Homo sapiens: one gene and its partner. The protein of the gene in region 2 purifies or fractionates together with the protein of the main gene of each other region. This does not show direct contact. Each region holds a gene or a part of one and is shown on either strand. Other genes may lie near its edges.

Region 1 (7,281 bases), on a different chromosome or scaffold from region 2:
CCACTGGGGAGAACCTGCTTCCAAATTCACTCTTGTGGTTATTGGTACGATTCAGTTCCTTTTGAGCTGTTGGCTAGAAGCCTCCCTCAACCCTTGCTATGTGGGCCTCCCCAGGGGGCAGTTCCCAACATGACAGCTGGCTTCCATTGAGAGAGAAGGCATCAAGAGACAAACTCATCTTTTTACCACCAAATATCAGAAGTGATATCCTGTCCCTTCTGCTGTATTCTATTCATTAGAAGCTAGTCATTAGGTCCCACCTACACCCAGAGAGTGAACCACCAGGAAGTGAGATTATTGGGAACCATCTTAGAGGCTGCCTACCACATGCAAAATACGTCCCCCCTACTCCTCAGATCCTCAAAAGTTTCACTTTTGCATTACAACATCAGCTCAAAGTTCAGAATCTCATAATTGGAATCAAGTCAGGGTGATATCATAACTGGAATCACCCCAGGCTTCCTCAGGAGGTAGTTCTTTAAGTACAGTTCCTGGAACACAGTTGCTTTCCATCTGTAGACCCATGAAACTAGAGAAAAGTTATCTGCCTTCTACTCACAGCATAAAATTATGGATAAGGCATAACCATAACCATCACCATAACATTCTGTCCACAAAGCTGGGAAATGGGAGACATAAAGGAGTCACTAAGTCTAGCCCATGCTCAAGGGGAGGAAATTATGCAAGGTCTGAAACTAGGAGGTGGGGCCACCTTAGAGGCTGCCTACCACACTGCCCTTCTATTTGATTGTAATAATAAAAGGAGTAAAACTTTTGATAAATATTTTATGAGACTTCAGGTGGGGCTGATACCTAACATATATGGATGGCATTGCTGCTTGTATTGCTAGTTTTTTCCTTTGGCTCAGAGTAAAAATTCTTTTTGATTACAAGAATATCAGAGGAAATTGTTTAACAATTCTATTTCTCTTTATCATGGCTATAGATCTGATCATTGACTATTAGGTTGGTTTGTTTCCCAAAAATTTCCAAAATATTTTCCTAAAGTTTAATACAACATTTGTTATAGCTCCATGCTTATTCATGTGGCTGCCTTCTATATTTCTTCTTCAATTTATCAATACATCTTATATTTGCATAAAATTCAAACTACATCCCTTGGTGAAACATAATGTCTCTACTTTGAACATGGGAGATTTTCTACTTTCTTTTTCATACTATTGACTAGAGAAATAACTTCCCCTTCCCTTTATGCTGCTTTCTGAAGTCCTGCTAGAATACTCCTTATTGTCCTTCCTTTTTCTATCAGTCTATGGTTCTCAACCAACAACAGTTTTGCTCTTCGGGGGACATTTGGCAATGTCTGGAAACATTTTTGGTTGTCACAACAGGAGGGTGCTACTGGCATCTAGTGTGCAGAGGCCAGGGATGCTGCTCAGTAAGCTGTAATGCACAGGGCAGCCTCCGTACAACAAAGAATTATGGGGCTCAGAATGTCAATAATGCCAAAGTTGAGAAACCCCAGTGTAAAACAAACCAGTCCTTCTTCCCACTTTAAAAATGAAGACATTACAATGTTGCTTTAGCCTTGGTTACTATATAAATCTACTTTTTCCCCCCAAAAGCAAACATTTCCCCAAAATAACAAAAATGTGGAGTTGTGATATAAACTACAAATTGCAGGCAAACCAGGTTCTACTCAATTACCTAACCACTGAAGAATATAGCTTGAGATAAAGGGCATGGAGAAAAGTGAAATTTTACTAAATGTGCAGTTTGAATACTTCTTTTGATTGAGCAATATATACTGAATGTTTTGTGACACTTTGAGATCTAGTTTTATACTTTAAGCATATGTAATTACTGCTAACTGGAAAATATCTAAAATATGTATATCCAAACTAGAGCATGGATTAGGAGTCTTTTTTATTTGTTTGCTCTCAAAATGATGCCAACATAACAAAAATTTAGAACAATGTACAGCAGCCAGTATAGAATCCCTAAGATAACTATAATATTTTTAAATAAATAATGCTTCATATTTTTATTGTTTCATGGCATTTCCATTCACGAATCACCTTTTTTCCTAAATAAGTGTATCTATAATTTTATGAGTCATTTGTCCAAATATGTAGAACAGGGCTTTGGGAGAAAACAAATACACTCACAATTTTTCTCAATTGCCAACAGACTAGTTTATTTGTTTCTCTTGTAATACGAACATGCTATTCTCTTAGTTTTTATCTTCAATAACATATGAAAGATCCAAAATCAAATTGGCTGTCTCTACAGCCACCTGTAGGCCACTAAGCTTTGCAGTCAAACAGTCCAAGGTCAGGTTGCTGGCTGAGCCCACAGCTTCATGTGGAAGGCAGCTTTGTGGCACAAATGGACGACGTGTGCTTCTTAAGAAAGACCAGTTGAGTTCTTCCTGGCTATTGTATAATCCACAGCCACACTGTGAAAGCAAATCTGGCCAGTTAGCAACACAGGGAGAATCTGCCTGAACTGACCAAAGGTGTCCATACTTCATGTCAGTGAGAATTTCACCTCCATCATGTTCTAAAGAGCCAACAACAGATTCTAGGGCACTGCAAAATGCTTCAGCAATTAATTGAAGTTCTGTTTGAGTACATTCATCATCTTTGAGAATGCTTTCTGGGTCGTTGTGAGTCTAAAGAGTAATAAAAACATTGAAAACACATACAAAGCAATTAATATAAAATGTTTCAGAAAAATAAGATACTGAAATCAAAATCTTATTCCTAAAGTAATTACTTACTTTCATTTAATTTGGGGTCTGGCACAATGCTAACGGGCTTGTATGGGTCAGCCGGCCGGGTTGCAAACCCTTAACTAGGTTGGTTATAGTAAAAATGTATTAAAAATGTATATACTACCAGTCATGTTACCAGAATGAGTGAATCAGAATAACCCCACCATCAGCTTATTCTGAATGAGGCTTGGTAGTGCCTCCTTAATACATGAAGGACTAGGCATAATACATGTATTACAGGTTTTTCTGCACACAGGAGGAAGTTCCTGAAGACTGATGTCCCAAATGGAGTACTTATTTATCTCTGCAAAATGTTTGAGATTTGCTTAAAATGGGAATGCACATATTTTTATTTGGAAATCATGATGTAAATTTTCATATCAATGTTTTAAAAATGAATATTCTTCTCTTTAAATTAATGAAAAGGTAATAAGACCTTAAACAGTCTTCTGGTTCCACTATTTAAAAATGTTTATCCTAGAAATTCCATGATAAAAAGAAAAATTAATATATAGCCATGCACCACATACCAACACTTCAGTCAATGATAGACTGCATATACAACAGTGGTCCCATAAGATTATAAGGCCATATTTTTACTAACCTTTTCTGTGTGTTGATATGTTTAGATACATAAATACCATTGTGTTACAATTACCTACAGTATTCAGTACAGTAATATGCTGTAAGGGTTTGTAGCCTAGGAGCAATAGGCTATACCACATAGCTTAGGAGTGTGGTAGGCTCTACCATGTAGGTTTGTGCAAGTACACTCTATATTGTTTGCACAACAATATTGTCTAATGATGCATTTCTCAGAATATATCTTTGTTAAGCAACATGTCTGTATTAGCAAACTAATAACTGAATGATGGGTTAAAAAATCCATATCTTAACTGCTTAAAAACAGTGACTACTTTCCTACTCAAGACACCTCCTTCCTCTAAAAAACTTTCTCTAGTTTATCAATTCCATTTCAGAATACATTATTGTCCATTCAGCACCAATAGATTGGCACAAATTTTGTTTTCCATAATGTATATTCTGATAACTTTTCATGAATGTGCTTTATCTTCAAAGAGATTCTAAGTTATTTGGGGAAGGACAGGGCATGTTTACCCAATGAATCGATTGCTAATATCTGGAAAACACCTATACCTTTTTCTATCCATTTTCAAATAAAGTAGGCCAGTACTTATGAAATAATCAGAACAACAATGCACTAAACTTATCTGAGAGCTGTCAGGAAATGGAGTTTCCTAGACCAATCAAAAAATTCTATTTAGTATAATTAATAAATAACATACATAAATACCAATTTTAAAATTATAATAGAATCTAATATGTGAATTGCTTAAATAAATGAAACTTTTCTTGATGCTCTAGAAGATACTGAAGTATTCTGTAGAAACTTGGCCCTTTTGTTTGTGAACATCAATTATTACTGTATTGCAGCAGTTGAGATCTCTAAGAGAACTCCCAATAACAGAATGCTAGCTTCAACATGCAGAACATGTAGACAATACTCAAAGAACGTGATCGCTTGCTTAAATATTTTTATAATAATCATTGTAATAAGGATATTACCTTATATTTACCTTGTTATTTCCCTCAAGTGTTTTTGATTATCTACTTTATTTAGACTACTGAAAAATTCAGTGTTAAAGGCTACAAGTTTACCTGTATAACAAACCTATACATGCACCCCTGAACCTAAAAGTTAAAACTAACAAAAAGACTATAGGATATTATGATTTTGGCTTATTATCTCAGAAAACAAAAGTTGCTGAGAATTCAGGTAATCCGAAGAGGATTATCTTACATACCTTGTGTCTGATATATGCAGCCAAATGAGTTTCAGTACAGCCACCTCCCAACAAAGCCCATGGTTCCTTGAGTGTTAACTGCAGGACATGCAGTGCCGTCTGACACGTGAGCTAAGAAAAAACCCAAATCATCAGAATCAGACGTTCACATCATATTAACACACAAAAAATCATGCTCTCAAAGCATCATAGTGAATACAGAGAGTGTGATTTTAATTACAAAAGAACAAAACTTGTGTGGTGCCAAGGTTGTCATGTGATTAATACATTCTGAATAGTAAGGTTTAGAGATTAAGGGAAGATACTTCAGTCAGAAGTTTGTTTTCACGGAGCCAGATTAGTATTTTCTTTCATATACACTTAGCTCTTCAAACTGAGACGAATATATGGCCTCAAAATATCTGGGTCAACAAGGTTTGCTGACACTTCCACTAAAAAAATCATTTCAGTCTAAATAATAAATTTATTTTGAATGGATTTGGAAATAATACAGTTACATCCCAGCAATAATAAATAAAAAATCACACAGACCTTTAACATTTACTAAGGATATATCCTTGAGCATACATGAATCTTTAAAACTTGTGACCAATCCCATAGATTATCATTTCCCTTGTATAAAAGTTGCATGTATTATTGCTGGCAGAGAACAGGAAACTCTGCTAAGAAGTGGATGATGGGTATTGACTGGGGAACTCATTTTTCCAAGTGAATTATTCATACACATTACCATCAAAGACTACACAATTCAAGCTAATTTCTTAGAAAAGTTCGCATGTCAAGGGCCTTTTAGGTTTCTAGTAAATAGTAGAAATAATAAATGGCAACACATGCCAAATTTATTATAATGCCACAGGCATTTAAATTAGCTTACTTGTGACTTTGCATCAATCATTTTAATTTTTGCTTTCTATACTACCTAGGGAAGCTACGAAAAAAAAATCATAATAACTATTGAGTGACTAATTCCTCCCTCAGCCTCTGCATATGGAATTCAAAGTTCATTACCTACCTTCAGCTCATCCCAGGCAGTGTCATTTCTGTTGCAGAGAAGCAAGCTGCAGATTGTTGCTTCATTAGGAATAAGATGAAAAAAATGTTTGGAGCCAAATTTTGCAGTGCACACATCTTTCACACTTCCATAACTATTAGGACATATTGAGCCTAGGGATCCAATAGGCTGTGTTCCTATTTTTTAAAGATTAGAAAATACAAGTTGTATAAGCAAAAGTGGAGCAAACAACCATTTAAAAGTATATTTATTCCTAGCCAACATAAAAGCCCCACAAGCATATAATTTAAAATATGAAATACAGGATAAATAAGATGAATATTCCTAAACTGCTAAGTTATATTCTGCTATTAAAATGATATACAAATAAAGTAAAGTAGAAGTTATTTTTGTTTACAGATCTCTTTGAAAATCTTTTAGAAGTCATTTTGTACTGTCTTCCCAGAAAAGGGCACATACAATTTTGCATACATTTTCAAGGAATTCAGAAAACCCTCAAAGCCCATTCAGGGTTTAGAGACCCCAAATTAAGAACTTCACTAATTTGGATTACGGGTGATGTGACAGGCTATTTTTTTTTAAAGGCATTATTATTTTCAATTTAAAATAAATGCTGCTATCCAAATAGTTGTGTAGTTGAATTCCTTCGGGACGCTACATAGTGAATATGTAAGAATTATTTTTTTGTCTGGCAACTATTTATAAAATAGCTAACTGAATTATGCCAAAATAAAGTGACATGCTTATTTCACTGCTATTATTTGATATATTAAGTATTTTGTCCTCCTACCTGCACATGTAAAATAGTGAAGTTTTATAAACCACAAGTAAAAATATGAATAAAGAAGTTAGCGTGACTTGAATTTTCCAAATCTCCAAACGTAATGGAAGTTATGTAAGAAAAGAAACCTACATCAAACTCCTACAAGAAACAATACTAAAGTCTAAAGCTATAATTCTGAGCCATTCACCCCTTTCAGCTAGTTTCCTTTTCTTTCAGACTCACCTTTAAAAGATGGTTTCTTTCAAACTAATGGGGTTTAGTTTGAAAGTCTAAAATGTCGGCCGGGTGTAGTGGCTCATGCCTGTAATCCCAGCATTTTAGGAGGCTGAGGCGGGCATTGCCTAAGGTCAGGAGTTCGAGACCAGCCTGGCCAACATGGTGAAACCCCGTCTCTACTAAAAATACAAAAACTAGCCGGGCGTGGTGGCAGGTGCTTGTAATCCCAGCTGCTTGGGAGGCTGAGGCAGGAGAATCGCTTGAACCTGGGGGGCAGAGGTTGCAGTGAGCAGTGAGCTGAGATTGCGCCACTGCACTCTAGCCTGGGCAACAGAGCGAGACTTTGTCTCAAAAAAAAAAAAAAAAAAAAAAAAAAAAGCTAAAATGCCTAAAAACACTTCCATCTCAAAAAATTTATAGAATATAATCACTAAACAATTTCACTTATTTGAATATTGTTTACTTCTGAAATATTCAAGAATAATGAATACTTTAAAAAAGTGATCTAAGTAAAAAACCCAAAATCTTATAGTATAATTTCTTTCACATGGTGGGAACAACAGATTCTGCATGAGAAGGCCGGCTCTACTGCTTATCAGCCACTGGATGCTGTCACTCATGTCATTTAACTTTTCTGCCTCCCTCACATGAGAGGCAAGTGGGGATAATAATGCATACTTCACAAATAAATCAAACCAAGTCAAAT
Region 2 (7,872 bases):
AGGGCATGTGAAATGTTAAGTTACAGCAATAGATATTTTATTTGTATTTCATGTTAGTACTTTTTTGTTTTATATCACTTATAAAGGTACAGTGTACTCTTTGTCACAGCTCAGTTGGTAACCGCATTCCATTGAAAAGTTGGCCTTGTAAAATACAACTCTCATTTAATATTCATGCTTTTGTGCCTTTAAGAAAATATTTTTTGTCATTTTTTGTGTTACAGAACTATAATGTGATTCAAGGTGTTTATAGGCTTGTCATAAAAGGGTCATTTCTGTGTGTTACTTTCTTTTTATATAGCTATAGTATATTTAAACAATAATACTATCTTTTATAGGGGTTTGTCTATTTACCTATTCTTTACTCAGACATTGATGTAGACTTGTCAGATTATTCTGAGTATTGTTAACAGTGCCTTTTCGATGGAATCACACTTTTTGGCTGTCACCTTGTGCCATATACACACAAAATTTTGTGGAAGGCAGTTTTAACTTTCTGAAGAATATCTGTCAAAATTTAAGAAAACAAATGTATAAAATTCCATTTTTTCCAGTGTTTAGCATTTCTAGTAAGCAGTGAGGTTGTTTGACATACAGTGATGATGGCATTATTGATAAGCCATACATGAGACTGCAGATTATATTGAATCATATTAAATGTACAGAAATAAAATATTAGATTTATATCAAATTTTCCAATTTGAACCAGTGGGGAAAATCCCACAGAAATCAGTAAGTTTACATTTCAATTTCTATCTTATTTGACTAAGTGGAAAGAGATTCTTTAAAATGTATAACCTGCCATTATGTAATTTGGTTTCATTTTATTCTACCTGTTGTGTGAGTTTAGTATATTTAATTTACTTTTTGTTACTCTTTACATACTGTTTATTTTTGTTAGTTTTTAATTGAAGATGGACTGTTGAAATTGTATAGGACCAGTGTCTTATTAATATGATTAATATATTTAGAAGAGCCACGTGAAACCCATGACAAAATGAATGTGAATATTCTTTCTAAAAATTTAGAAAATGTTATCTTTTTGCATTTATTATGTAAAACTGTTTTACAGTATCAAAATTTTTCACTTAAAGAAAAAAAATGCCATGAAACATTTGAACTGATGAGCCACAGAACTTCAGTTGAAATTTTTTTCACTTTTTAGCATGCTAAATATACATCTGAGTTTAAATGTTCTGTTTAATGGCCATTCATAAATTCAAGCACTACCACTGGTCAGTTTTGTGTGATAGAATAAAAATATGTTACCTGCAGTGTAAGTACAGCACACTGTCAAATTCTTTTCCTTAAGGTGCACAGTAAATGTACAGATAGTTATAGGCCACTGTTTTGTAATGTAGTACATTTCTAATCTATTATTCCTAACCTATTATAACTGTTTGCAGAAAGAAAAGAATTTTTCTAATAATCTGTAAAATTATGCTAACTTCTACAAGTAGGCTTCTAAATAAAATTTTTAAAAAGAGCAAACGGTGATCAAGTGACTTTTAATACAATATGATGACTAAATTATTGCTAATTTGTTTTAATCCCCCCTTTTGTGGGGATAGGGATAGCTGCAAAGGATGGCAAAGGGCTTGAAAGGGATTCAACAGTGAGAATCCCTGAAGTATGCTTTGCTTGGTGCCTTATATTCATTCTTCTCGAATCCTCTATGAGAACCTTAGGTGGACGTTAGCCAGATTTTATACATGAAGATGCTGAGGCTCAGAGAGGTTGAAAGTCTCCAAAAGCTGCGGAGTAAGAGTGGTAGCCGACTCTTACTTTAAGAGTAAAAGCACAAGTTTGAATCTGTATCTCCGTGGTACACTTAAATAGAACTCTAATAGCACTTCACTTCTAAATGTCAGGAATATAATCCACTGCTTGAATCTATATTGAGTAATGTAACCCCTTTGTTATGAGTAGCACCACAAAAAAACCCTACTATTAAACATATACGAAATCCATATGAAAGGGTTTTTTTTTCCCCCCTCAGATCACCTATTAGTCCATACTGAGTCAACATCAGATGAGTTCCGAGACATCATTCCTCTCTGGTTTTCCCCCACCCTCCTTTCTTCCCATTCTTGCTCTCTGCTCAGGGTCCAGTTGCTTCTGGCTGTCATTTGGTTTGGTTTTATTAATTGGGGAGAAAAAGATGGGAGGGCCTGCCGGTTCCTCCTATCTTGTTCATAGCAATAAGGATTAAGGAAAACGGCCCCTCATTGTCCAACCTCGTGAAACATCTACAAGATCATTTTCTTGCTAATACTGGCATGCTTCGACTCTAGATGATGTATGTTGTGCCATTATGCTAGTTGAATCTTCTGCATCTCACAAAATATCACTTGTGGGAATAATAAACCAGGAGAGTGGTGACCTACCACAGTAATTTGGTGGGTGCGTCAGAGGCATCTGAACCAGAGCAACTCCAGTAATTTGGTGGGTGCGTCAGAGGCATCTGAACCAGAGCAACTCCATCTTGAATAGGAGCTGGGTAAAATGAGGCTAAGATCTAGGCTGCATTCCCAGATGATTAAGGCATTCTAAGTCACAGGATGAGATAGGAGGTTGGCACAAGATACAGGTCATAAAGACCTTGCTGATAAAACAGGTTGCAGTAAAGAAGCCAGCCAAAACCCACCAAAACCAAGATGGCCACGAGAGTGACCTCTGGTTGTCCTCACTGCTATACTCCCACCAGCACCAAAGACAGTTTACAAATGCCATGGCAATGTCAGGAAGTTACCCTATATGGCCTAAAGAGGGGAGGCATAAATAATCCACTCCTTGTTTAGCATATCATCAAGAAATAACCATAAAAATCGGCAACCAGCAGCCCTTGGGGCTGCTTTGCCTATGGAGTAACCATTCTTTTATTCCTCTTTCTTAATAAACTTGCTTTCACTTTATGGACTCGTCCTGAATTCTTTCTTGCATGAGATCCAAGAACCCTCTCTTGGGGTCTGGATTGGGACCCTTTTCCTCTAACAGGTGTAATATAAATATCTGTTGAGTGCTAACTATGCCAGGCACTATGCAAAGTGTTTAGTGAACATTCTCCACCTACTCAAAACCTCTTGAGATTTTTATTTTGTATATGTTATCTCCACTGGTTTTTTTGGCGGGGATTGTTTTGTTTTGAGACAAGGTCTCGCTCTGTCGCCCAGGCTGGAGTGCAGTGGTGCAATCTTGGCTCACTGCAACCTCCCTTCCCGAGTTCAAATTATTCTCATACCTCAGCCTCCAGAGTAGCTGGGATTACAAGCATGCACCACCATGCCCAGCTAATTTTTGTATTTTTAGTAGAGACGGGATTTTGCTATGTTGGCCATGCTGGTCTTGAACTCTCGGCCTCCTGTGATCTCCCACCTCGGCCTCCCAAAGTCCTGGAATTACAGCCATGAGCCACTGCGGCAGGCCCATTGTTTTTAAAGATGAGAAAAGCAGAGATCAAAGAGGTTACTTGGTGAATGCCACAGGTAAGGAAATGACAGAGCAAATCCAGGTCTGAATCCAAAGCCCATGCTCTCAAGTGCCTGTGTTTTAGGCCAGGCAAGGTGGCTCATGCCTGTAATCCTAAAACTTTGGAAGGCCAAGTTGGGAGGATCACTTGAGGCCAGGAATTCAAGATCAGCCTGGGCAACACAGGGAGACCCTGTCTCTACTAAAAGAGAAAATAACCAGGCGTAGTGAGGCACAAAGCGACTTGAAGGCTAAGACAGGAGGATCACGAGCTCAGGAATGCGGAGCTGCAGTAAGCTATGATCTCGCCACTGCACTCCAGCCTGGGCGGCAGAGTGAAACTTCATCTCTTAAAAAACAAAAAAAATGTTATAAGAGACAGTATTTTCTGTCTTTGGGTTATATACAATAATCCTTGGCCATGTGTTTTAAAGCATACTGTTGATCACCGACGTGATTAATGGATTTAAATCTGCACAGCGGCTCATGCCTGTAATCCCAACACTCTGAAAGGCCGTGGCAGGTGGATCATTCAGGTCATGAGTTCGAGACCAGCCTGGTCAACATGGTGACATCCCCATCTCTACTAAAAATACAAATATTGGCGGGGCACAGTGGCGTATGCCTGTAATCCCAGCTACTTGAGAGGCTGAGGCACGGGAATCGCTTGAGCCCGGGAGGCGGAGGTTGCAGTCAGCCGAGATTGCGCCACTGCACTCCAGCCTGGGCGACAGAGCGGGAGTCCATCTCAAAAAATAGAGACTTCGCATCATTTCTGCTTAATATATTTGTGGTGTCTAGAGTTTTATTGTGATACCTGAGTCTAGGAAATGTGGTAAAGCCTCTGCAGCAGACATAAAGCCTGCAATTCATGGCTGTGGCCAGGCTCTCCTCACCTGTCCTGCATCTACAAATTATTTCCGTTATGGTAAGGAGAGCAACTCGTGGGGAATGTGGACAGGAACATGCGTGAATCCAAGGCAGAGGTTTTGCCCCGGAAAAAGCAGCTTCTGGCAGGGGATGAAAGCCAGCAGAGTTCCAACCGGGGTGCCCTCTCCTTCACGCAGGCCCCACTACCGTGTTGACTTAGGAAGAAAGTTTCTCGGGAGACTAAGGGATTTGGGGGCAGCGGACGCCACTGGAGGGAGATGAATTCACCTAGGGAGCCGGGGAGGGGCTTAGGGTTGCCGCTCCAGGCACAGCTGCTGGAAATCCTAGTCTGTTTTTTCTGCCTTCGCGTACAACGGGCCAGCTCACCCCACCTGGCAAAGCTGCAGGGCTTTTCCACCAGGCGGACAGAAGGGCAGCCCTCTCGCCCAACCAAGAAGCCGTGCTACCCCGGCTTCGACTCCTGGCTTCCGGGTTTTCTCCCCGCCTATTCCGTTTCCGGCCGTTCCCACCCCTGTTTTCGGTCGGCCCGGGTGTTCTGCAAGCTGGTCAAAAAGGGGAAGCGGCCCAGATATGTTAAGTTCTATGGCCGCTGCAGGGTCTGTGAAGGCGGCGTTGCAGGTGGCCGAGGTGCTGGAAGCCATCGTGAGCTGCTGCGTGGGGCCCGAGGGACGGCAAGTTTTGTGTACGAAGCCCACTGGCGAGGTGCTTCTCAGCCGGAATGGAGGCCGCCTCCTGGAGGCGCTACACTTAGAGCATCCCATAGCCAGGTACCCGCGTCCCACACGCTAACCCGTAGCCGGGCACCCCAGGCAGCCTCTGTGGAGCTCTTGTCCCATCCTGAGGCGATGCGTACTTAGAAAGACTGACCTCGGGTGAAACCGCTGTATGCTCGGAATTAGAGCCCTGCCCAAGGGAACACTCCTGCACCCCAAATCTTACCAATTCTCAAGACCACTTCTCCCCACTCCACCCAACGGTGGAATCTTGGAATAGAGCAGAGTTTTTTCCAAGAAAGGAAAAAACTAAGGATGTATCCAAGGAACAATATTCTCATTTTATGCTTATGGCTGTGTAAACATGGTTTTAAGATGTGGGAAGCCAGCCTTCTGAAAATGAGTTGCTTTATTTCTTTTTTGTACAGGATGATAGTGGACTGTGTTTCCAGTCATCTCAAAAAAACAGGAGATGGTGCAAAAACATTTATTATCTTTCTTTGCCATTTGCTTAGAGGACTTCATGCAATCACAGACAGAGAAAAGGATCCTTTGATGTGTGAAAACATTCAAACCCATGGAAGGCATTGGAAAAATTGTTCTCGGTGGAAATTTATTTCCCAGGCTCTCCTAACGTTTCAGACACAAATATTAGACGGTATTATGGACCAGTACCTAAGTAGACACTTTTTGTCTATCTTTTCGTCTGCTAAAGAGAGAACATTGTGTAGGAGCTCTTTAGAGTTGCTCTTAGAAGCATACTTTTGTGGAAGAGTGGGAAGAAATAATCATAAATTTATTTCACAGTTGATGTGTGACTACTTTTTCAAGTGTATGACTTGTAAAAGTGGGATTGGTGTATTTGAGTTAGTGGATGACCATTTTGTAGAGTTGAATGTTGGTGTCACTGGCCTTCCTGTTTCAGATTCCAGGATCATAGCTGGTCTTGTGCTTCAGAAAGATTTTTCTGTGTACCGCCCAGCAGATGGTGACATGCGAATGGTGATAGTAACAGAAACCATTCAGCCTCTTTTTTCCACTTCTGGATCAGAGTTTATTCTAAATTCAGAAGCACAGTTTCAGACATCTCAATTTTGGATTATGGAAAAGACAAAAGCAATAATGAAACATCTACATAGTCAGAATGTAAAATTGCTCATATCTAGTGTGAAACAACCAGATTTAGTTAGTTATTATGCAGGGGTGAATGGCATATCAGTGGTTGAGTGTTTATCATCAGAAGAAGTTTCTCTTATCCGGAGGATCATTGGTCTTTCTCCATTTGTACCACCACAGGCCTTTTCGCAGTGTGAAATACCTAACACTGCTTTGGTGAAATTTTGTAAACCTCTTATCCTTAGATCCAAAAGATATGTTCATCTAGGCTTGATAAGCACATGTGCATTTATACCACACTCTATAGTTCTTTGTGGACCAGTGCATGGTCTCATTGAACAACATGAGGATGCTTTACATGGAGCACTTAAAATGCTTCGGCAATTATTTAAAGACCTTGATCTAAATTACATGACACAAACCAATGACCAAAATGGCACTTCAAGTCTTTTTATTTATAAGAACAGTGGAGAAAGTTATCAAGCACCAGATCCTGGTAATGGCTCAATACAAAGGCCTTATCAGGACACAGTTGCAGAGAACAAAGATGCATTGGAAAAAACTCAAACATATTTAAAAGTACATTCTAATTTGGTAATTCCAGATGTAGAATTAGAAACATATATTCCGTATTCAACCCCCACACTGACACCAACAGATACATTCCAAACAGTTGAAACGCTGACATGTTTGTCTTTGGAAAGAAACAGGCTAACTGATTATTATGAACCATTACTCAAGAACAATTCCACTGCTTATTCAACAAGGGGAAATAGAATAGAAATTTCTTACGAAAATTTACAGGTCACAAATATTACTAGAAAGGGAAGCATGTTACCAGTGAGCTGTAAGTTACCGAATATGGGTACTTCCCAGAGTTACCTTTCCTCATCTATGCCAGCTGGTTGTGTTTTGCCAGTAGGTGGTAATTTTGAGATCTTGTTACATTACTATCTTCTCAATTATGCCAAAAAATGCCATCAATCAGAAGAAACCATGGTTAGTATGATAATAGCTAATGCACTTTTAGGCATTCCCAAAGTCCTTTATAAATCTAAAACAGGAAAGTACAGCTTTCCACATACATATATAAGAGCTGTCCATGCACTGCAAACCAATCAACCCTTGGTAAGCAGTCAGACAGGTTTGGAATCAGTAATGGGTAAATACCAGCTACTAACTTCAGTTCTTCAGTGTTTGACAAAAATATTAACCATTGACATGGTAATCACTGTTAAGAGACACCCTCAGAAAGTTCACAATCAAGATTCAGAAGATGAACTATAACATCAGAAGTTTTTAATTAACCAAACTTTTCATCTAACTCAAGCCAAGTAAAGCAGTCATGTGACCACTGGTTCTAAAGTCAGTTCAGTCTACTTAGGAAAATAGCGTAACTTTAAAAGTCTTTAGAAGAAGCACACTAAGGTCACCAGACCAGATACAAATATTAAATTACTTTATGGAACAAATCTAGAGGGGAAGCCAAGATTTGGCTAAGTGTGTCTGTTTTTTCCCTATTTTATGCCTCTGTGTCTCAGCTCTGTGTTAGCCTATGTGTTTAGGGGAGGGTTTTTCTTTATAGCTCCTTTTTACTCTCCTGTATCTTTTTCACTCCAGCCCTCCTTCATCGTTACATGTTTAGTTCATAGAATCATTTAATCTCTGATTTGGGTGGGCTTAT

The links.
Region 1: the proteins of BBS10 (region 2) and MKKS purify together in Homo sapiens (co-immunoprecipitation; 2 studies listed by IntAct, with this or other methods). This does not show direct contact.

The regions. Positions count from the first base shown.
Region 1 is NC_000020.11:10,403,053-10,410,333, forward strand, and holds part of MKKS (molecular chaperone MKKS), read right to left. Parts: intron 5,752-7,281; coding exon 5,576-5,751; intron 4,675-5,575; coding exon 4,564-4,674; intron 2,636-4,563; coding exon 2,195-2,635; 3' UTR 1-2,194. UniProt on the Homo sapiens protein: Probable molecular chaperone that assists the folding of proteins upon ATP hydrolysis. Plays a role in the assembly of BBSome, a complex involved in ciliogenesis regulating transports vesicles to the cilia.
Region 2 is NC_000012.12:76,345,416-76,353,287, reverse strand, and holds the start of BBS10 (BBSome complex assembly protein BBS10), read left to right. Parts: upstream 1-4,872; 5' UTR 4,873-4,929; coding exon 4,930-5,126; intron 5,127-5,500; coding exon 5,501-7,475; 3' UTR 7,476-7,872. UniProt on the Homo sapiens protein: Probable molecular chaperone that assists the folding of proteins upon ATP hydrolysis. Plays a role in the assembly of BBSome, a complex involved in ciliogenesis regulating transports vesicles to the cilia. Involved in adipogenic differentiation.